Regions from separate parts of the Homo sapiens genome. Here region 2 is linked to region 1. The links come from fine-mapping of genetic effects on gene expression. A gene starts in region 1. The other region holds a variant in brackets. All regions are shown on one strand. Distances are from middle to middle. Region 1 holds the start of OAS3 (2'-5'-oligoadenylate synthetase 3). Region 2 overlaps DTX1 (deltex E3 ubiquitin ligase 1).

What was found.
Region 2: its variant is fine-mapped to the expression of OAS3 in whole blood (TOPMed, PIP above 0.99).

What each region holds. Positions count from the first base shown.
Region 1 is chr12:112,934,152-112,944,245 of GRCh38, forward strand. OAS3 (2'-5'-oligoadenylate synthetase 3) reads left to right here and starts at 4,323. Exons shown (of 16, transcript NM_006187.4): 1 at 4,323-4,556; 2 at 7,419-7,701. The coding sequence starts at 4,380. RefSeq lists enhancers at 1,976-2,145, 3,942-4,111, 4,006-4,315, 4,279-4,448, 4,872-5,041 and 2 more and a silencer at 4,536-4,625.
Region 2 is chr12:113,057,526-113,067,228 of GRCh38, forward strand. It overlaps DTX1 (deltex E3 ubiquitin ligase 1), which reads left to right. Exons shown (of 10, transcript NM_004416.3): 2 at 1-926. The coding sequence starts at 668. Among named protein-coding and RNA genes, the nearest start is that of DTX1, 5.6 kb to the left of the region's middle. RefSeq lists enhancers at 443-1,231, 7,743-8,301, 9,543-9,703 and a silencer at 7,786-7,986. The variant A/C (reference allele first, on the strand shown) is at 3,850.

The DNA of each region.
Region 1 (10,094 bases):
AGATTCTTTTTCTGCCAGGCATGGTGGCTCACACCTGTAATCCCAGCACTTCGGGAAGCCAAGGCCGTTGGATCACCTGAGGTCAGGAGTTCGAGACCACCCTGGCCAACATAGTGAAACCCCGTCTCTACTAAAAATACAAAAATTAGCCAGACATGGTGGCACACACCTGTAATCCCAGCTACTCGGGAGGCTGAGGCAGGAGAATTGCTTAAACCTGGGAGGCAGAAGTTGCAGTGAGCCGAGACCACACTGCTGCACTCCAGCCTGGGCTGTCTCAAAAAAAAAAAAAAAAAAAAAAAAAAAAAGGAAGGAAGGAAGGAAGAGAGAGAGAGAAAGAGAGGAAAGAAAGAAAGAAAGAAAGAAAGAAAGAAAGAAAGAAAGAAAGAGAGAAAGAAAAGAAAAGAAAAGAAAAGAAAGAAAAAGAGAGAAAAAGAGAAAAAGAAAGAAAGAATATTCTTTTTCAAAAAGAAACCAGCAGCAATTTCTTCCCGGGCCAGTACAAGGTGGTGAGTGAGTTGACTAAGCAGACAGGCAAAAAGAGAGAGAGTATCTGTAGGAGGATACTGTCACCTTTTATATATAGGCAATAAGCAATAGTTTTCCAAGGAGAACAGCAGATGATTTGCTACTGTATCAACCAAGAATATATTTGACCGTAGTAAGTAACAGAATGTGTAACAGACATTCTGAGTCATTTTGTTACACCCACAACTGTGGGTGACCTGTCCAGATATGCCTTCTAATTCCAAGCACCCCAAGAAAACCCCTGTGCTTAAGATTTTATCTAGCCATGAATCCAACATTTTCTATTTGCTTATTAATTTTTTGTCCATCTTCTCTCGTTAGAATATAAATTCCATGAGAGCAGAGGCCTTTTCACTTATTCACCACACATGTTCTGTGCTAGACCAGTGGCTACCATAAAGAAAACACTGAATAAATATTTATTTATTTATTTATTTATTTTATTTTTGAGCCAGAGTTTCACTCTTGTCATCCAGCCTAGAGTGCAATGGTGTGATCTTGGCTCACTGCAACCATTGCCTCCTGGGTTCAAGTGATTCTCCTGACTCAGACTCCTGAGTACCTGGGATTACAGGTGCCTGCCACCATACTCAGCTAATTTTTGTATGTTTAGTAGAGACGGGGTTTCACCATGTTGGCCAGGCCAGTCTCGAACTCCTGACCTCAGGTCATCCACCTGCTTTGGCCTCCCAAAGTGCTGGGATTACAGGCGTGAGCCACCGCACCTGGCCTTAATAAATATTTATAAGAATAAGGAAAGGATCTGTTTTCCACATCTCATAAGTTGTCTTTTATACCTTTCTTTTCTATGTTCTGCTTTCCTGTAATCTCGAGTAATTTCCTCCATTCCATCTTCCAGTTTACTGATTTTATCTTCAGGTATATTTATTCAGCCTATCTATGGAGAAGGTTCGGTTTTTCTGTTCATCTTTGGTTTTATTTTGCATTATGTTTTCACTTCCAATGTGATAGTGGTGATTGTTGACTTTCATCACTGTTCTTATTTCATGGATATGATGAATAATCATGAATACAATGAATAATTATAATGGATATAATATCTAATCCCTCTGAGGATATTAATTATATATTTCTAAGACCGTATTAGTCCAATTTGTACTTCTAAAACAGAAAGCCACAGACTGGGAAATTAGTAAAGAACAGAAATTTACTTATCACAGTTCTGGAGGCTGAGAAGTGCAAGACCAAGGCTTCAGCAGGTTAGGACCTGGTCTCTATGCTTCCAAGATGGCGCCTTGAAGAATGTTGTGTCTTTTGGAGGGGAGGAACACTATGTCCTCACATGGCAGAAAAGCAGAAGACAATGAGCCCATTCCTCCAAGCTCTTTTCACAGTGGCCATAATCCACTCACGTGGGCAGAGCCCTCATGACACAAACACCTCCTGTTAGACCCCACTTCCCAACTGCTGCATTGGGGAGTAAGTTTCCAACACATGAATTCTGGGGGACAAATTTAGACCACAGAAGACTCTTTCTCCTTTATTGATTATTTCAGTGTCCTTACATGTGAGTTTTTATGTTCATAGCATTGGATCTCCCAAAATAATTTGGCACCTTTGGATGTGTGCTTTTTGCTCACTGGGGATGTTCTGCTTGTCTCCCTGTGAAGTTGGTACCTTCTTACTGCAGCTGGAGGCAGAGATGAGGAAAGGGGATGTGCCAGGAATGAGTCTTCTGCATACAGGACTTCCTGTTCTTTCCAGATGTGGCCAGGTATGCTGTGTACTTCCCTGCCTCTCTGCCCCACCCTCACTGCTCCCTCCTTAGGCAGGCACCTCTGCTGCCTGTTACTCAACACAGAAAGGTTGGGGCGGGAGACCACATGTCTTTAGAGGCTGCCATTACTATGCCAGCACAACTGACAACCATGAGAGTTAACCTAGGGTCCCTTCTTTTCCTTCAATCCACTGCCTGGAGCCTGCAGCTCCTCAGAGCCTTTCCACTCTGCATAGGTACCCCCTCCTTTATGTGTTTTGGCTGCAATTTCCTCCTTCATCCAGTCTCATATCTCTGACAGGGATCTCAGATTCCAGTTTACCTGGGACACCTCTGGTTAGGACCCAGCAACATTATTAAAGTTTTTCTATCGCTTTCCTGCCACCTCTAGAGGCCTGGGATGGACGTTGAAGGCTTATGCATATGTTCAGTCCACCATCATGACCCAATATTGACCCTTCTGCGTTCCATCTTCTAAAAATGCCTCAAATGTCCCGCCCCCTTGACTCCACTTTTTCTCAGTTTCCAACCCTGTTGATTTCCATTATGCTTTTAATATATCTTTGCTGCTATTTTAATAGAATTTTGAGCATGTGTTCAATCCACTATCTTGAATGGAAAGTTTCTAAAGTGGCCTGTGACTCAGGAAGAAGACTGTGATTAATGGGCGAGAATGAAAATCATTGCTCAATCCCTTGACTTAAATCCCCACCACAACACCTGACCTACAAAACCTGCCCATACTTGAATATTCCAAGTGATGCAGCATTCACTACTCAAAATATTAGCTGGTGTACATATTACAGACCCAGCATCTCTCCCTCTAGTTGACCATGACCTCTGAAATTCACACTCTGATCCTATCTATTTCCTTTCAGTTACCGTGCAGATGTCAGGAAGCACTTGTTAAGACTATTACCTGAAGTGTACTCAGAGGCAGAGTAAATGCTGGGTCCCGGAGCAGACAGGAGAGAGGACCTGGGAGTTTTTTAGTAAGATGGGGAGGAGGAGATAGGCTATGGCTTGGACCAGGCCTGGAAGAGAGCTCAGGTGTGCAGTCTCTAGGAACCCGGGTGGAGAAGCAGCAGGAAATAAGCAGAAAAAGGAGACAGGCCATGAAGATAGAAGCGCAATGGTCCTGGATTCAAATCTCCACTCTGCAGCTTATAGCTTACAGTCCGCTTAGCTTTGTGCCCATTCCAAGAGGATTTCCCTATTGTAGCTTTACAATGTTTTAATATGTAGTATTGTTGTGCAAGGTACCATCCTAAACTGACTGACTTTCCTTCCTCCTTCTCCTCCAAAATAATTTTTAATTCTTGCAGACAGACTTTAGATCGTGTGTTTGAAGTTTTTAAAGATGGAATTTTTATTGGAACTGCATTACACGTATAAATTATTTAGGAAGAGTTGGCTTCTGAAGAGGGCAGCTCTGTGGGCTTGGGCTGGGTTTGAATCCAGCCAGACAACTTTCCAGCTGTGTTACCTTGGACAGTTACCTAGTTCCTCTGTACCTTGACTTCCTCATCTGTCAAATGGGTGATGATAATAGCACCTACACCATGGTCGTTGGGAGGAGTCAGTGAGAGTCTCCAAGTGTGCTTTATTATCGTTGGTGGTGGTAGTGGTGTTTAGAACGCATCCCTCAGTCAGACAGCGAGGTAGGACTTCTCCGTTTATTAAATCCTGACCTTTTTTTTCCATGTAAAACCTGCACGTTTCTGAAATGCTCAGAGTACGTTACTCAGTATGTACCCATATGTTCTGTGGGTATACTTTGTTAGGTTGTGATTAGTTCGTTGGAGCTGGTGGTTGCAGGGACGGCTGGAAGCAAGGAGATGAAGGAGAGGAAGTCGTAGCTGGGAAGGGGACCAGGAAGTGGGTGTCAGGTCCAAGAGCTGCTAGAAAGAAACGAAACTGAAAGCAGGGAATTTCCCAAGTTTGGGGAAGACAGGAACTGCAGCGCCCCTCCCCGTTTCACGCCACGCGCGGGACCGAGGACCTAGGACCTGGCCAGCTGGGCGTGGTTCGGAGAGCCGGGCGGGAAAACGAAACCAGAAATCCGAAGGCCGCGCCAGAGCCCTGCTTCCCCTTGCACCTGCGCCGGGCGGCCATGGACTTGTACAGCACCCCGGCCGCTGCGCTGGACAGGTTCGTGGCCAGAAGGCTGCAGCCGCGGAAGGAGTTCGTAGAGAAGGCGCGGCGCGCTCTGGGCGCCCTGGCCGCTGCCCTGAGGGAGCGCGGGGGCCGCCTCGGTGCTGCTGCCCCGCGGGTGCTGAAAACTGTCAAGGTGAGGTCCCACCTCGGGGTCTTTATGTGTCCAAAGGGGAGTCCTGGGAGGACGCTTAAGCCTCACATAGGCTTACGGTGGGGGTGGCTTTATCCGCTTGTGCACCTCATTCATTTCTTTAACAAATACTTCCAATGTGCCAGCCCCGTGCTAACTCCCCCGAACATACGAGCCAGGTAGGTACTCTTAAGCCCGCTTGACAGATAGAGAAAATGAGGCACAGAGAGGTACAGTGACGTGTCCGATCCTGTAAGAGGCCCAGCCAGGATTCAAATCCAAGTAGCCTGATTCCTGCATCTCTACTCTCAGAGGCTGCTTCTTATCCATTCATTCACTCATTCACTCATTCTCCCAGTCATTCAAACAGACTGTGGGCCTCACACTATGCCAGACCTTAAGGTTACAGAAGTAATAACACTCCGCGTAACAGCCAGAGTAGCCCAATTTATTGAGACATTATCAAATAACAATGAAAATTATCTCATTAAATGAGTATTACCTCATTTCATCCCCACGTTCAGTGAGGCAGGTATTATTGTACCTGTTTTATGGATAGGGAAACTGAGGCTAGACGCTAAATTACTACTCTGAGTCACATCTTTTTTTTTTTTTTTTTTTTTTTTTTTTTTTGAGACAGGGTCTCGCTCTGTCACCCAGGCTGGAGTGCAGTAGCATGATCTTGGCTCACAGCAACCTCCGCCTCCTGGGCTCAAGTTATTCTCACACCTCAGCCTCCCAAGTAGCTGGCACTACAGGTGCACACTACCATGCCTGGCTAATTATTTGCATTTTTTGTAGAGATAGAGTTTTGCCGTGTTGCCCAGGCTGGCCTGGAACTCCTGGGCTCAAGTGATCCACTTGCCTTGGCCTTTCAAAGTGCTGGGATTACAGGTGTGAGCCACCATGCCCAGGTAATTTTTGCATTTTTTGTAGAGACGGGATTTCACCATGTTGCCCAGGCTCCGGGTCACTTTTTGTCACTTAAATACAGCCACACTGCCACTGTGATCCCAGGACACTCGCAGATTCAGGGAGGAGACAAGTCATGAGCTACCTTATCCTCAGGGTAGATTTGGGGGTGCCAGGAGTGGATTGATGGAGGGAACCTGGGTGTGCTAGAGGAGGTTGTCAGGAGAGGGAGTGAAAACGCAGAGTAGAAATGGCCTCAGAGCACCTAGTGGTTTCCTGGGGCTGACTCTCAGCTTGGGAGGTGGGGAAGGAGGAGACACTTGTCGCCTAGGAGGTGTGAAGTCCCGTTTCTACCTTGGAGATGGACAGGAGGGATTTCTGTGCAGCAAGGGAAAGCCCTGGCATCCTTAGCTTCCCTGGAAAGGGGTGGGAGGGGGTTCTGGAGCACAATCTCCCTGTGCTTTCATTGTCTCCTTTGTAAAGTGAGCACGGTGCAATCTCCCTGTGCTTTCGTTTCCTCTTTTGTAAAGTGGTACCTTCCTTCTGGGGCTGTGAGGAAGGTTCAATGAGATGAGAGTGTGCAAAACGTGCAGGAAGTGCCCAGCCTGTAATATTCCCTGTTCCCACTTTGTCAGCAGCCCCCAGATGGTGGGAGCTGGTAGTAAAAGGACTGGCATAATCATCGGGATAAGTAGGGGGTCCCAGTTTGAGGCAAGCCTTGCTCCTGGAGGGCTCCATCCTGGTTCTTGCTGTTTACTGGCTGTGTAACTCATTTCACCATCTGAGCCTCACTCCCCATATCTGCAGCCACATGTAACTACATCACAGTTGTTTTGTGTTGGAAGTGAGATTAGAGACGTCAGATCCCAGACACAGAACAGTGGCTCTGACAATGTTTAGGAGTTTCTTTTCCAAATCCTCAGGTTGGAAGCTTTGCCGAAAGAAACACTAATCACACAGGTCTCAGAAATTGAGTCATACCACAGTTCTGTACCCATTCTGAGCAAAGATTGCAAATGTGTGTTCTGCAAAGCAGAATTTGTTTTACCTGCGGTCTTGAGTTTTTAAAAAGTTAGTTGCCAACATTTAAAAATCATGGATATAGGCCTGGCATGGTGGTTCATGCCTGTAATCCCAGCACTTTGGGAGGCCAACGAGGGCAGATCACTTGAGGTCAGGAATTCGAGACCAGTCTGGCCAACATGGTGAAACCCCATCTCTACTAAAAATACAAAAATTAGCCAGGCATGGTGGCGCACACCTGTAGTCCCAGCTACTCAGGAGGCTCAGGTGGGAAAATCACTTGAACTCATGAGATGGAGGTTGCAGTGAGCTGAGATGGTGCCACTGCACTCCAGCCTAGGCAACAGAGTAAGTCTCTGTCTCAAAACTAAAAATAAAAATAAAATTACAAGTATGGATTTAGCCCAGCACGGTGGTGCATGCCTATAGTCTCAGACACTTGGGAGGCTGAGGCAAGAAGATCACTCGAGCCCAGGAATTCCAAGCTGCAGTGAGCTACAATCGTGTCTGTGAATAGCCACTGCACTCCAGCCTGGGCAACATAGCAAGACCCCATCTCTTTAAAAAAATGTAAAAACTAGCCAGGCATGGTAGCGTGTGCCTGTAGTCTCAACTACTTGAGAGGCTGAGGCAGGAGGATCACTCGAGCCCAGGAGTTCAAGGCCGCAGTGAGCTATGTGTTCCAGCCTGGGTGACAGAACAAGACCCTGTTTCTATGGAAAAAAAATCATGAGTTTACATGTTAAAATTGCTTCTCTTGAAATCTCGAGCCTGGCTACCCTGGGCCCACATTCCCGCGTGGCTTCAATGCCTACAGCCATGTGGCCACAGTCTCTCCCCAGCACACTTGCCTCACTCAAGTTGCCTGCCAGGTTGCAAGGCCACTAGAATTGGACAGTATGAAATTCTGAGTTATTTTTCTTTGCCCAGGGAGGCTCCTCGGGCCGGGGCACAGCTCTCAAGGGTGGCTGTGATTCTGAACTTGTCATCTTCCTCGACTGCTTCAAGAGCTATGTGGACCAGAGGGCCCGCCGTGCAGAGATCCTCAGTGAGATGCGGGCATCGCTGGAATCCTGGTGGCAGAACCCAGTCCCTGGTCTGAGACTCACGTTTCCTGAGCAGAGCGTGCCTGGGGCCCTGCAGTTCCGCCTGACATCCGTAGATCTTGAGGACTGGATGGATGTTAGCCTGGTGCCTGCCTTCAATGTCCTGGGTGAGGGGTTCCTAGACCATTCCAGGGTTGGGGGCAAAAGATCATTGGGAACAACACAGGACTTCCAATTCTAGCCCAGCCACCAACTTGCTGTTTGACCTGGGCCAGCCTCTACCCCTCTCTCAGCCTCAGTCTGGGGACTAAACATATTGGACTTGTGCCAGACAAAGGCAGAGAAACCCCAGTTCCTCCTGGATCTGTGGTCCTGCTGTCAAGATGCTTGGCCCTCCCACAGGCATCTGGGAGTTTCCCTCAGCCACTGCCTGGAGCGGTTACTGCTCAGCCCTTCCACAAATACTCCCGAAAGCTAAGCCAAGTGGACATGTGGCTAGCAGTAGGGGCCTGGGGACGAAACCAGAATTCTGCAAAATCTTGTATTTTATGTTGAAAACATCAATGTGATTTTTGTGTTCTCCTTCGTAATACACGTATGCTTGAGTTAAGATAAAAATAGGCCTCTGTGTCCTCATCTGTAAAATGAGGATAATACTAATGGGGATAATAGTAATCTTATAGAGTTGTCAGAAGAATTAAATGCATTAATATATGTAATCAAGCTTAGAAGTGTGTCTAGTGGGCCAGGCGCAGTGGCTCATGCCTGTAATCCCAGCTTCGGGAGGCCAAGTTAGAGACTGCTTGAGCCCAGGAGTTCAAGATCAGCCTTGGCAAAATAGCAAGATCTAGTCTCTACAAATAATAATAATTTTAAAAAATAGCCAGGTGTAGTAGTACATGCCTCCCTCTGATCCCAGCTACTGGAGAGGCTGAGGTGGGAGGATTGTTTGAGCCCAGGCAGTGGAGGCTGCAGTGAATTGTGATTTTGCCACTACAATCTGTCTGAGTAAGACTCTTCTTAAAAAAAAAAAAGAAATAAGAATGTCTAGCATGTGATAAGGGTTGTAAGAGTGTTTACTATTATTATTATTTCTATTATTGTTGTTGTTTCTATTATTATTGTTATTATTATTATTATTATTATTTACCTTGATGATCTGGGGGATAGCTTTATCCTTTGGGCAGATAGCCACATCCCCTATGCCTGGTACCCTAAGCCTAGTGTACCCACATACTGGGTACACACACACACACGCACACACATTTTTAAGACAGGGTCTCACTCTGTCACCCAGGTTGGAGTGTGGTGGCATGATCTTGGCTCACTGCAACCTCCGTCCTGGGTTCAAGCAATCCTCCCACCTCAGCCTCCCGAGTAGCTGGGCTACAGGCATGCACCACCATGCCTGGCTAATTTTTGTATTTTTTATAGAGATAGGGTTTCACCATGTTGTCTAGGCTGGTCTTGAACTTCTGAGATCAAATGATCCACCTGCCTCAGCCTCCCAAAGTGCTAGGATTACAGGCACAAGCCACCCCACCCAGCCTGGGTACACATATATTAATCATAATAGTTACTACTTATTAAATGCTTAACTATTCCAAGAACTTGACATGTTTTATCTCATCAATTCTTCACAACAAACTTATGAGGTCTGTACTGTTTCAGCTTCAATTTTACCATTGGGGAAACTGAGGCTCAGAGACATACAGTGACCCACCCAAAGCCACACAGCAGGCAAGCGGTAGCAGCAACCTCAGGGAATTATGGAAAGTGTTTACTTCTCCCAAGCCATGCCCATGGGAGTGGTGGCGGAAAAGGCGCACCCTGCAAAGTCCACTGGCTCTGAGCTCAAATCCTGCCTCCATCGCATGCTGGCTGTGTAACCTTGGGCAAATCATGGAATTTCTCTGTGCCTCAGCTTCCTCAGCTATCAAGTGGGATGAAGAACTGTACTTGCCTCATAGGGTTGTGGTGGGGATACATGTAAAGACCTTCTGTCCAGTGCCCAGTATGCAGTAAAAAAAATATATATTTTTTTCTAAGACAGAGTTTCGCTCTGTCCCCCAGGCTGGAGTGCAGTGGTACGATCTCAGCTCACTGCAACCTCTGCCTCCTGAGTTCAAGCAATTCTCGTGCTTCGGCCTCTGGAGTAGCTGGGATTACAGGCGAGTGCCAACATGACTGGCTAATTTTTGTATATTTTGTTGGCCAGGCTGGTCTCGAACTCCTGACCTCAGGTGAACCTCCCACCTTGGCCTCCCAAAGTGCTGGGATTACAGGTGTGAGCCACAGCGCCAGGCCTGTAGTAAAAAATATCAACAACCACTGCTAAAGGATCAGGGCTTTTTGCCTTTTATTTCTTGGGCATCGTTTTCCTCTCCGTGACACCTCTTAATTAAGGATATGTAGAGTGGTGTTTTGAGGAAGGCTCAGGGAGGAGAGAGTTGCCAGGCTGCAGGCACTGCTGACTCAGCTGGAAGCAACTTTCCTGTTTAACCATCTTGGAATGCAGCTGCTCCTCTTTGAGCTGTTGCTCTAGGGACTGCCTGGCCAT
Region 2 (9,703 bases), 120 kb after region 1:
GGAGCCGCAGTCCAGGCGCGCCGCCCGAGGGTCCACGCCGCACCCCTCCCCCGTGCGTTCTGCGGCCACCCAGGCCTTCCAGGACACCGTGGAGAGGGAACAAGGGGGCAGGGACGCCCCCTTCGGCAGGAGCCGTCGGAGAAGGGGGCCCAGACCGGAGGGAGGCGAGAAGCCCCACTGAAGCCGGGCGCAGGGTCTGGGACGCAGTTGGGAGTGCAAAGGGCTGGCTGAGAGCCGCAGGAGCAGCAGGCTGTGGCCCAGGCCTCCTGGGTGACAGGCCCTGTCTGGCGGGGAAGAGGGACCAAGAGACAACACGGAAGAGGCTGGACCTCGAACAGGGGCGGCTGCCTCACTCCCTACCTGAGCCAGCCGAGGGGGCCAAGGACTTTAGAGCTGTTTCCTCCGGCATAAGAGAGACACTTGCTTTCCAGGGCAGCACCCTTTATCGGAGAAGGCTCTACAGGGAAGGGGTCTTTGCAGCCTGGATGGCCATCCCACATTCCTTTAACGGAGGTCTCTAGGCCTCAGAGAGAACCCAGAGTTAGAAAGGAGGCCAGACGGTCCTTGCTGTCCCCCTGGGGAGAGAGGAAGTTGCCGCCTGCTGCCAGGCCCAGGAGGAGCTGGGCCTGCAATAGTGGGGGACCTGGCCCCTGAGGCAGTGGCGGCCATGTCACGGCCAGGCCACGGTGGGCTGATGCCTGTGAATGGTCTGGGCTTCCCACCGCAGAACGTGGCCCGGGTGGTGGTGTGGGAGTGGCTGAATGAGCACAGCCGCTGGCGGCCCTACACGGCCACCGTGTGCCACCACATTGAGAACGTGCTGAAGGAGGACGCTCGCGGTTCCGTGGTCCTGGGGCAGGTGGACGCCCAGCTTGTGCCCTACATCATCGACCTGCAGTCCATGCACCAGTTTCGCCAGGACACAGGTGAGCAGACACCCACCCCATGCCACCCGCCCCGCCGAGCCATCACTACCTTGCAGCGTAGGATGCTGAAAATCCCAGTAAATCTGCTGATGCCAAATCCCTTCCCCATCTCCCTGCCTCACCTCCAGAAAAACAGGGCAGTCTAACCTTGTCCAGTTTAAGACTTGGATTCCAATGCAGCCTCTGAGCAAGCTGTAGGGCCTTGAGCAAGTTGCATCATCTCTCTGAGCCTCAGTTTCCTCATCTGCAAAATGGGTAGATCAATATCTCTCACAGCTGAGTGAGGATTAAATAAAATTGTGCTCACTGAGCACAGAACCTAGAACAGCAGTAGCATGGGATTGTAGAATAAGGGCTTTACATGCACTTCCTCATTTGATTTTTCCCAAGAATCACAGGCAGTAAGTCTGTGTATTGTTGTATTATTATGAGTCCCATTTTATAGATGAAGAAACCGAGTCTCCCAGAAGCTGAGTGATTTAAACTCAGAGCTGGGATTTAAACCCAGGCGGTTGAGTTCCAGAACCAAAGTTCTTAACTGGTATCCTATACTGGCTCCAAGTGTTGGTTTGTGGGGTGGAGTCGTGCTGGTGGTAATTAATTGGGGATGGGGGGCGTTGGTGGTGTTGATGGTGGGGTGAGGTGGCAATGATGGAGGAGACAGTGTTAGCGGTTGTGTTGGTGGTGACTCAGTGATAGTATTGATGGTGGTGGGGTCTTGGTGACAATGGAGGGATGGATGATGGTGACGTGGCAGTGTTGGTGGTGATGTCAGTGATAGCGTTAACCATGGGATTCAGTGGTGTTGGTGACATTGATAGTTGTGTTGGTGGTGGTGCTGGAAGTGGTGTGATGGGGTGGTGATGATGGAGAAAATGAGAGAATGATGTTGGTGGCAGTCTTCGTGGCCATGTGGTGTGGCTGGTAGCCCTGTGTGTGGCTGTTACTTAGTGGTATTGGTGATCCTGTTGTGGTTGTAATGATGGTGATGTTGATGGTTGCGTTGGTGGTAATGTGATGGCTGATGATGGAGATAAAATCGATGAGGTCCCACTCTCAGGCCTACTCTCTTTTGTTCTGGAGATTTGTCATCGTTGGGGAGATCTCCCTGAGTCATTGCCCGGTGGTATCTGTGACAAGCTCCATGGGCAGTGGGGACTGGTGGGGTCCTGCCGTGCAGAAGCAGCCTAGAAATCCTTGGCATGTTTGACCCCCCAAGGACCAGCTGATGGGGTTTGGGGAAGTTCCTATGAATCCCTGGATGACAGAACCACACGTAATAACCCCAGGCTGGTAGGATGCTCGCTTTCCCTCTAGAGCTGTGCCAACCAATATGTTAGCCACCAACCACATGTGGCTACTTAAATTTACATTAATTAAAACTAAGTAAAATGTAAAATCCAGTTCTTCAGTCTCACTAGCCACACTTCAAGTGCTCATAGCCACATGTGTCTTGTGGTACCTTGTGGGCCAGTGTAGATCCAGAACATTGCATTGTTGCAGAAAGTTCTATTACACCATGCTAGTTAGAAAGGAGGCCAGCCTTTCTAACTAGCACAGTCCAATATAAGTTTCTGCAATGATTGAACTTTCCAATAGTCCGGAACATTGCTAGGTACCCACAGAGTGCTTACCATGTCTGGAAACACAGGCGAATTCATAACAAATGGCTTATTGATGGTACAGATTAGTACATCTATGTTTCCGTAACTCCAGGCATTGACCACCATCACTGATGGTGCCAATTGTTCATGCATTCCATCATATGATTATTTATTGATCTCTGCTGTGTGTCAATTTCTGTGCTAAGCACTGGAGTACAGCAGGGAGCAAGACAAAGTCATCAGTCGAGGTCTTGTGCTGGAGGACCTACACTGAAGGTCCTGGTGTGGTCAGGGAGCAAGCAAACATATCACCACAGAGACAATCAGTGGCAGATCCGAGAGCATGAACTAAACCTGGCCCAGAGGTACTCAGGGAAGGCTAGCCTGAGAAAGTGATGTTTGAACAGAGATCTGAAGAATGAGTGAGGGTGCCAGTGTCCCAGGCAGAGGGCACAGCCAGTGCAAAGGCCCTGGGGTAGGAAGGGGCAGAGGACATTTAAGTCCGTTCTGTTTGGGATGCATCTCCCACCAAGGGGAAGATGGTGCAAGATGGCAGCTGAGCAAGGACCGGATGTACAGGCCTGGACAGCCACGCAAAGAACTTTGAATTTGATCCAGAGAGTAGAAGTCATCATTAGCTCCATGTGCCCATTCTTCCAGAGAGGCACCAAGGACCTGATGGAAGAAGGGGAAGTGTTGCACATTACCCGCCCCATTCTGTTTTCTCCTAGGGGTAGAGGGCAGGGCTGTGAGAGCAGAAGTGGGTAGGTGTCACTCCTTGCTAGGAGGTCTGGTGTTCTGCAGGTTCAGAGCTAATGCTGGGTGTAGAGATCTTCCGGGACCTAGCTGGGTTGGGTATGGGCGGCAGGGTCCTTAGAAGCAGGGACAGACTCCCCACAAGGCTGCCAAGTTGGCAACTTTACCTTTGATCCTCTTATCTTTGGGGGGACCCCCATTTCTATTCCCAGCATCCCCTTATGTTCCCGAGTCCCCAGACTTGCACACTCCCCTTTCATCAGGCCCCATTCTCTCAATAGTACCCCTTTTATGGTTCAGCCTCACTGGATCCCCCAGAAGTTCAGCTCTGGTCACTTCCCCTCTCCCTCTCTCCAGAGCTGTTCACTCCACACCTGCCCCCTGTTTGCCGGAAAAGGGAAAAAAAACACTCATTCCTAAATGGACTCCTGGGAGCCTGCCAGGAACCCCCTCCCACCCCAACCAGAGAGGGAGGAAGGCCTGGAAACCTATTGCGATTGGCAGGAGACCTCAGCTGCCTGGGAACCTGCTGGAGAGTGGGGCAAGAGGCCTCCTCACCAGAT[A/C]TGTGAGGGTTTTTCCCTCGCTTTACCCAGGAGCAAAACAATGTCAAGAAAGGACGTCTTGTCCTCATTGGTAACGCACTGGAAAAGAGCCTCAACCGGCAGGGAGCAGACCTGAGTGCCAACGGTGTGACCTCAGGCCTCTCCAGGTCTCAGTTTCCACATCCGTGAAATGGGTGAGAGGATCACCTCTCCAGCAGGGTTGTCGGGTTGAACAGAGAGAATCTGGCTGATTTTATCCCACAAACATCAACTAATTATCTACTGTGCATCTAGCACGTGCTCACCACTGTGGGTACAAGAGAGACAAGCAAAAGATCTTAAATCTTTTTTTTTTCTTCTTTTTTTGAGACAGTGTCTCACTCTGTCTCCCAGGCTAGAGTACAGTGGTGTGATGTCGGCTCACTGCAGCCTCTTTCCCCGGGTTCAAGTGATTCTCGTGCCTCAACCTCCCAAGTAGCTGGCATTACAGGCAAGCTACCACATACCACACCCGGCTAATTTTTGTATTTTTAGTAGAGATGGGGTTTTACCCTGTTGGCCAAGCTGGTCTTGAACTCCTGGCCTCAAGTGAGCCGCCCGCCTCGGCCTCCCAAAGTGCTGGGATTACAAGCGTGAGCCACTGTGCCTGGCTGTGAATCTTGAAAATATTATATTTCATACACACACACACACACACACACACACACACACACACACTCCAACATAATGCTGTAAAACCCAAAACTCATGTGTATGTGCTGAAATCAACACAAGCTTCTGTCTAGATTTTCTAATTGTAAAATTCTTGATATGTTCATTGAAGCTGAACTTGAACTTTGAGGGGAGACTGCCCTAGCTTTGCTAGTTTCCCAATGCAGGAGCTGGCTGATTTTTTTCTAATAGCATCAGATAATAAATCTTTTAACTTTGTGGGACCTGCAGTCTCTGTTGTAACTATTCAACTCTATCGGAGCAGAAAAGCAGCATAGACAATATGTAAGTGAATGCGTGTGGCTGTGTTCTAATCAAACTAGTTGTGGACACAGAAATTTGAATTTCATATCTTTTTCACGGGTCATGAAATATTCTTTTTTTTCCCCCAACCATTTAAAAATGTAAAAGCCATTCTTACTTCCTGAGCTGCACGATAGCAGATGGTGGGTGGATTTGGCCTGTGTGCTGCAGGTTCACTGACCCCTGCCCCACATGTTCTGAACCTGAGCATGGGGTAAGACCGTGCTGGTGCCACAGGACACCCAGCATGGCTTATCCACCCCTTGTGGTGTGTACCAAGGTACACGTGCGTGTGCGTACACACACACAGCACCAGTCTGCTCGCACAATGCCGACACACACATGCCCTGTGTATGTGCCTCCCGTGCAGTGCAGCCAGCGGAAGAAAGCCCCGGTGTCAGGCTGGGGCCACAGGGGAGAAGCCAGGCTCTGGCCCCACAGGGGCTGCGGTTTGTTCAGCCGTGCCCCCTCACCTTTCCCCTGCTGGGCTGTTTTCACTGCTCCCTGCAGGGGGTGAGGTTCCCTTTGAAGCCCTCCAGGTCCAGAGCCCAGAGTCTGGACTGGAAACTGGAGCCCCTCCACGGGGAGGCCTAATGCTGTGACCCTGAGCTGGATGATGTTAGATCAATCACGGTGGTGTCCCAGGCAGAGGGTTGGAGGGAGAGTCAGAGCTGGGCGAGGGATGGGTCGCTTGCTCGCTTCGCAGTACTGAGCCAAGTGCCCGGTTTCCCTCAAAGCTTTCTTTCTTCATTTCCCTCTGTCTCCAACCGTCCCTCCCACAGACAAAGATTGCCACATATGGGAAGCCCAAGGCCGAAGGGTATGCTCAGCTGGTGGCTGGGCTGGGCCCAGGAGCCATCAGGGTCTTGGGGTGAGGGGGTTGGCTGCCACTGGCAGTCGGGGAAAGGTTTGAGAATGGCTTTCTGCTCCCAGAGAAGAAGCCACATCTTCCCTGGGGGGTCATTTACATCCCCTGCCACTGGGACAGCCGCCTCCGAGGGCCTCACCCAGACCCTGAATTTCCCACCCAGTTCACACAGCTGGACAGAGGTGTAACTCAGCCACTTCCGCAGAAGCTCCCAGCTCGCTCCCTGGCCTCATATGACTGGAGCTGGGGAGGGGCACCTATCTGCCTGGTATCTCCCATGTCGCTCTCCATGTGCTGCTGGAGGGGTGCATGGCAGCCTCCTGCCCCTTCTGCTGATGGGATAGCTGAGGCCGAGGGATGCCAGCTGGGGACCATCCAAAGATGCCATACCCGAGGCTGCAAGCCTGGCCTTTTCTGGTGCCCCCAAGCTGGCCAACAGGCTGGAGTGGCAGGTGGTGGCTGGTTCTGGGATCTTCCAGCCTGCCTCCTTCCCTGGAAACCTTGGGCTTCACTCAGCCCTGGTCCCTGCCATGAGAGGAAGCACTATCTGAGGACACTTAGGCTGGAGACCCTTAGGCTGTTACCACCCAGATGGGAGGAGCTTTTCCCATCACCGGGGAAAACACCTCCAGAATTAGACACCAACTGGGGACAGTGAGGCCCAGAGAGGGTGAGTGACTTCCCCAAGGTCACACAGCCTACCAGTCCTAAGCTAGAGCCCAGGCCCCCCAGACAGGCCTTAGGGATAGAAAACAAGGTGACATTTAATGCCAGGGCTGAGAGAACCCCTTCCCCCTTCCCCCTTCTCCCTTGAGAGCGCTCTTGGGGCTTGTTGTCAGGGTCTAGCCCAAGGCAGGGACAGCCTGCACTACCCTGGAGGCCTCCAGGGCTCAGCTCCTGGTTACAGGACCCTTTGGGACCCTCTCTCCAGCCTCCTCACTGGAGACTAGGGCTGGGCCTGATGCCAGGGGCAAGAAAGACTATGTGTAGGGGCAGGGAGCGGCCCATCTCTGGTAGCAGCAGGTCCAGCTAATCCATATGTGGGTGCTCCCCAACCACCAGTCACGCTGTCTGTATTTCTACTATTGCAGACCCATGGTCTCTGGCTGCTTGGCTAACTCCAGAAGCCTGTTTTGAAACTAAATTCATCGCTCGTATTTGGTAGTCATTGGTGGCTTCTCAGTACCAGGTCCTGGGCTGGGTCTTGGGGACTCAGAGAGAAGGGCAAAATCCATTTCAGAGTCTAATCTATCCATTTCAGATCAGTTTCAGAGTCTAGTGAAGGTGAAGGCAAATGCATATCATGGAAATAGCCTTTGAACCCTCTGACTCATAAGGACAACAGATACAGACCTAAAACCCAGCTTGGCCCCTTGCTGGCTGTGTGACCATGGGCAAATTCCTTAACGTCTCTGAGTTTATTTCCTCCTCTGTAAAATGGGGATAAGAATAGTCCCTAGCTGGGAGGGTTGTCATGAGGACATAATGAGATACATAAATGAGATATGTAGATAAAAGCTTGGAGGATACTACTTTGCACGTAGTAAGCACTCATGCTCGAGGAAGAAAAAGATTTAAATGCCTCACTAGGCAGATGCACGGTGCCTTCAGCCATGGGATGTGCATGGTGTATGCCTGGAGCCTCTGAGAGGAGGACTTCCTGGAGGAGGAGTCCTTTGAGAGTGTGTGATTTGGGTAAATAGAATGATAGGAGGAACACTTACAGGTGGAGGAAACAGCAGGGGTCCTTCAGCAGGGTCCTGGAGGAGGGTCTCAGGCCTGGGTGGCAGAGGGAGGCTGTGATGGGAGATAGGGGATGGGTAGAGGAGGCCTCGTGGGGCCCACTGGGGCCTGGCAGGCTGGGCTGCCAGCTGCTGCCCTTTAGCAGCCAGGCCCCGGGGGACTCACAGCCACGCTGCAGGACCAGCCTCATTAATCACGGGCCCTTGGAGCTGGAGCAGGTGGGGCAGGGGCAGCCTCAGGCACTTCCTACAGTCTGTCTGGGTTCCCTTCACCCAGCCAGCGGGTGTCACCCCATTTTACACATAGTAAAGCTGAAGCTCAGAGGGTGGGGAGCCGCCTGCCGACGCTGAGAAGAGACGGGTCTGAGATCAGATCCAGGTCTGCAGCTGGGTGCGCACGGCCCTTCCCAGGCTCGCCCGGGCCACCGAGTACCTTGGACAGCACCATCAACGACCCGCCCGCGCCTTCCGGGCTGGGGGTGGGGATGCCCGGGACAGACCCCCTCGCAGCCCTCTCCCTCTCCTTCTCCTCCCCTCACCCCTTTCTCCTCCTTCTTCCCTCCCTCCTCCTCTCCAGCTTCCTCCCATCCCCCGCCTCATTCTTCCAAAGGAGCTGCGGAGTCTGACCTGGAGAGGAAGGAGGAGATGGAAGCTGTGATGGGAAGCGTGGGGGCTGGAGTAGGGGAGGTGATGCGGAAGTGACAGGTAGCGGGGCTGTGGAGGGGATGGTGAAGAAGGTGGTAAGGAGTGAAGCGTGAGGGGTTGGGAGGGGAGATGATGGAGGGTGTGATGAGAGGGTGACGAGGAGGGGCCAGGACGGGGAGGCCACGGGGAGGCCAAGGGGTTGGGGCAGGACTGGTCACAGTGGCTCCAAGTGCCCATTCAGGCAGTAGGCAATGGGGTTGAGGTCCCTAACTCTCTCTCCAGTGTGATGTTCTTGGTGCATGGGGGTGCCTGGGGTGCTCCCAGGCCTCCGCCCGCCACCTCTGTCTCTCCCTGGGCCTCCATCCTTCCACCTGGCTCTGGAATCACAACCGGTGGTAGCCAGTCCCCAGGACAGCTCCAGTCCCTTAGATAGTCACCCCCATGAGCCCACCCAGCCTCTGGGTTGACACAGACACCCCCAGCAGCCCCTAGCTGCCTCTGGCTGACATCAACTGAGGACATGGGGCCTGGAACCTGGAAACAGCTACCTCGGGGAATGCTGTTGGTGAGGGCCAGGCTCTGGGTTCCCATCCCAGCTGCTTACTAAGAATCATGGGGTGTGTAGGCCGGGTGTGGTGGCTCACATCTATAATCCCAGCACTTTGGGAGGCTAAGGTGAGTGGATCACCTGAGGTCAGGAGTTCGAGACCAGCCTGGCCAACATGGTAAAACCCCCTCTCTACTAAAAATACAAAAATTAGTGGGCATGGTGGTGGGCGCCTGTAATCCCAGCTACTCGGGAGGCCAAGGCAGGAGAATCACTTGAACCCGGGAGGTGGAGGTAGCAGTGAGCTGAGATTGAGCCATTGCACTCCAGCCTGAGTAACAGAGTGAGACTCCGTCTCAAAAAAAAAAAAAAGAATCGTAGTGGGTGGGGAGATTTGTGACCTTAAGTAAACCACACTCCCTCCCTGAGCCTCTGAGCCTCTGTTTCCTCACCTGTAATATGGACCTGATGATAGTACTGAACTTGTGTGATTGTGGTCACTATTCATTCATTCATCAGGAGTTTCATGAGCACCTACTGTGTGCCAGGCACTGTCCGGGCACTAGGAATGTCACAATCAACAGGACAGACACAGAAGCCCTCAAGGTGCTTCTGTTCTGGGGGTGAGGGGTGGAGTGATGATGGGTGTGATGCAGGAGGCCAGGCGCCAAGGAAGTCCCAGCATATAGGACTGTCCCCTACCTTGGAGCCCAGGAGCTGCCGGGCTAGGAGCTGAGTCTCCTCTAGGTCCCGCATAGTTGTGTCCTTGCTCGGCCACCCTGGCCAAGCGCCTCTCCCTCTCTGGGCTCCTTCCATCATCCCTCTGGAGCTGCTCCAGGCTGCTACTGCTGCCTGCACAGACAGCAGTGGCAGGCCGGTGACGGGGTGCATGAGGGAGTCTGGCGCTGGGCCCTGGAGCTGAGCACCCTGAGATGCAGAACAAAGGACGAGGCAATCAAAGGAGGCTGCCAGGACAGTCCTGCCAGCAGCTGCAGCACAGCCACCTCTTGTCCCGATGACCGACTGGGCCTTTGTCCCCTCCCCCTCCAACTGCAAGCA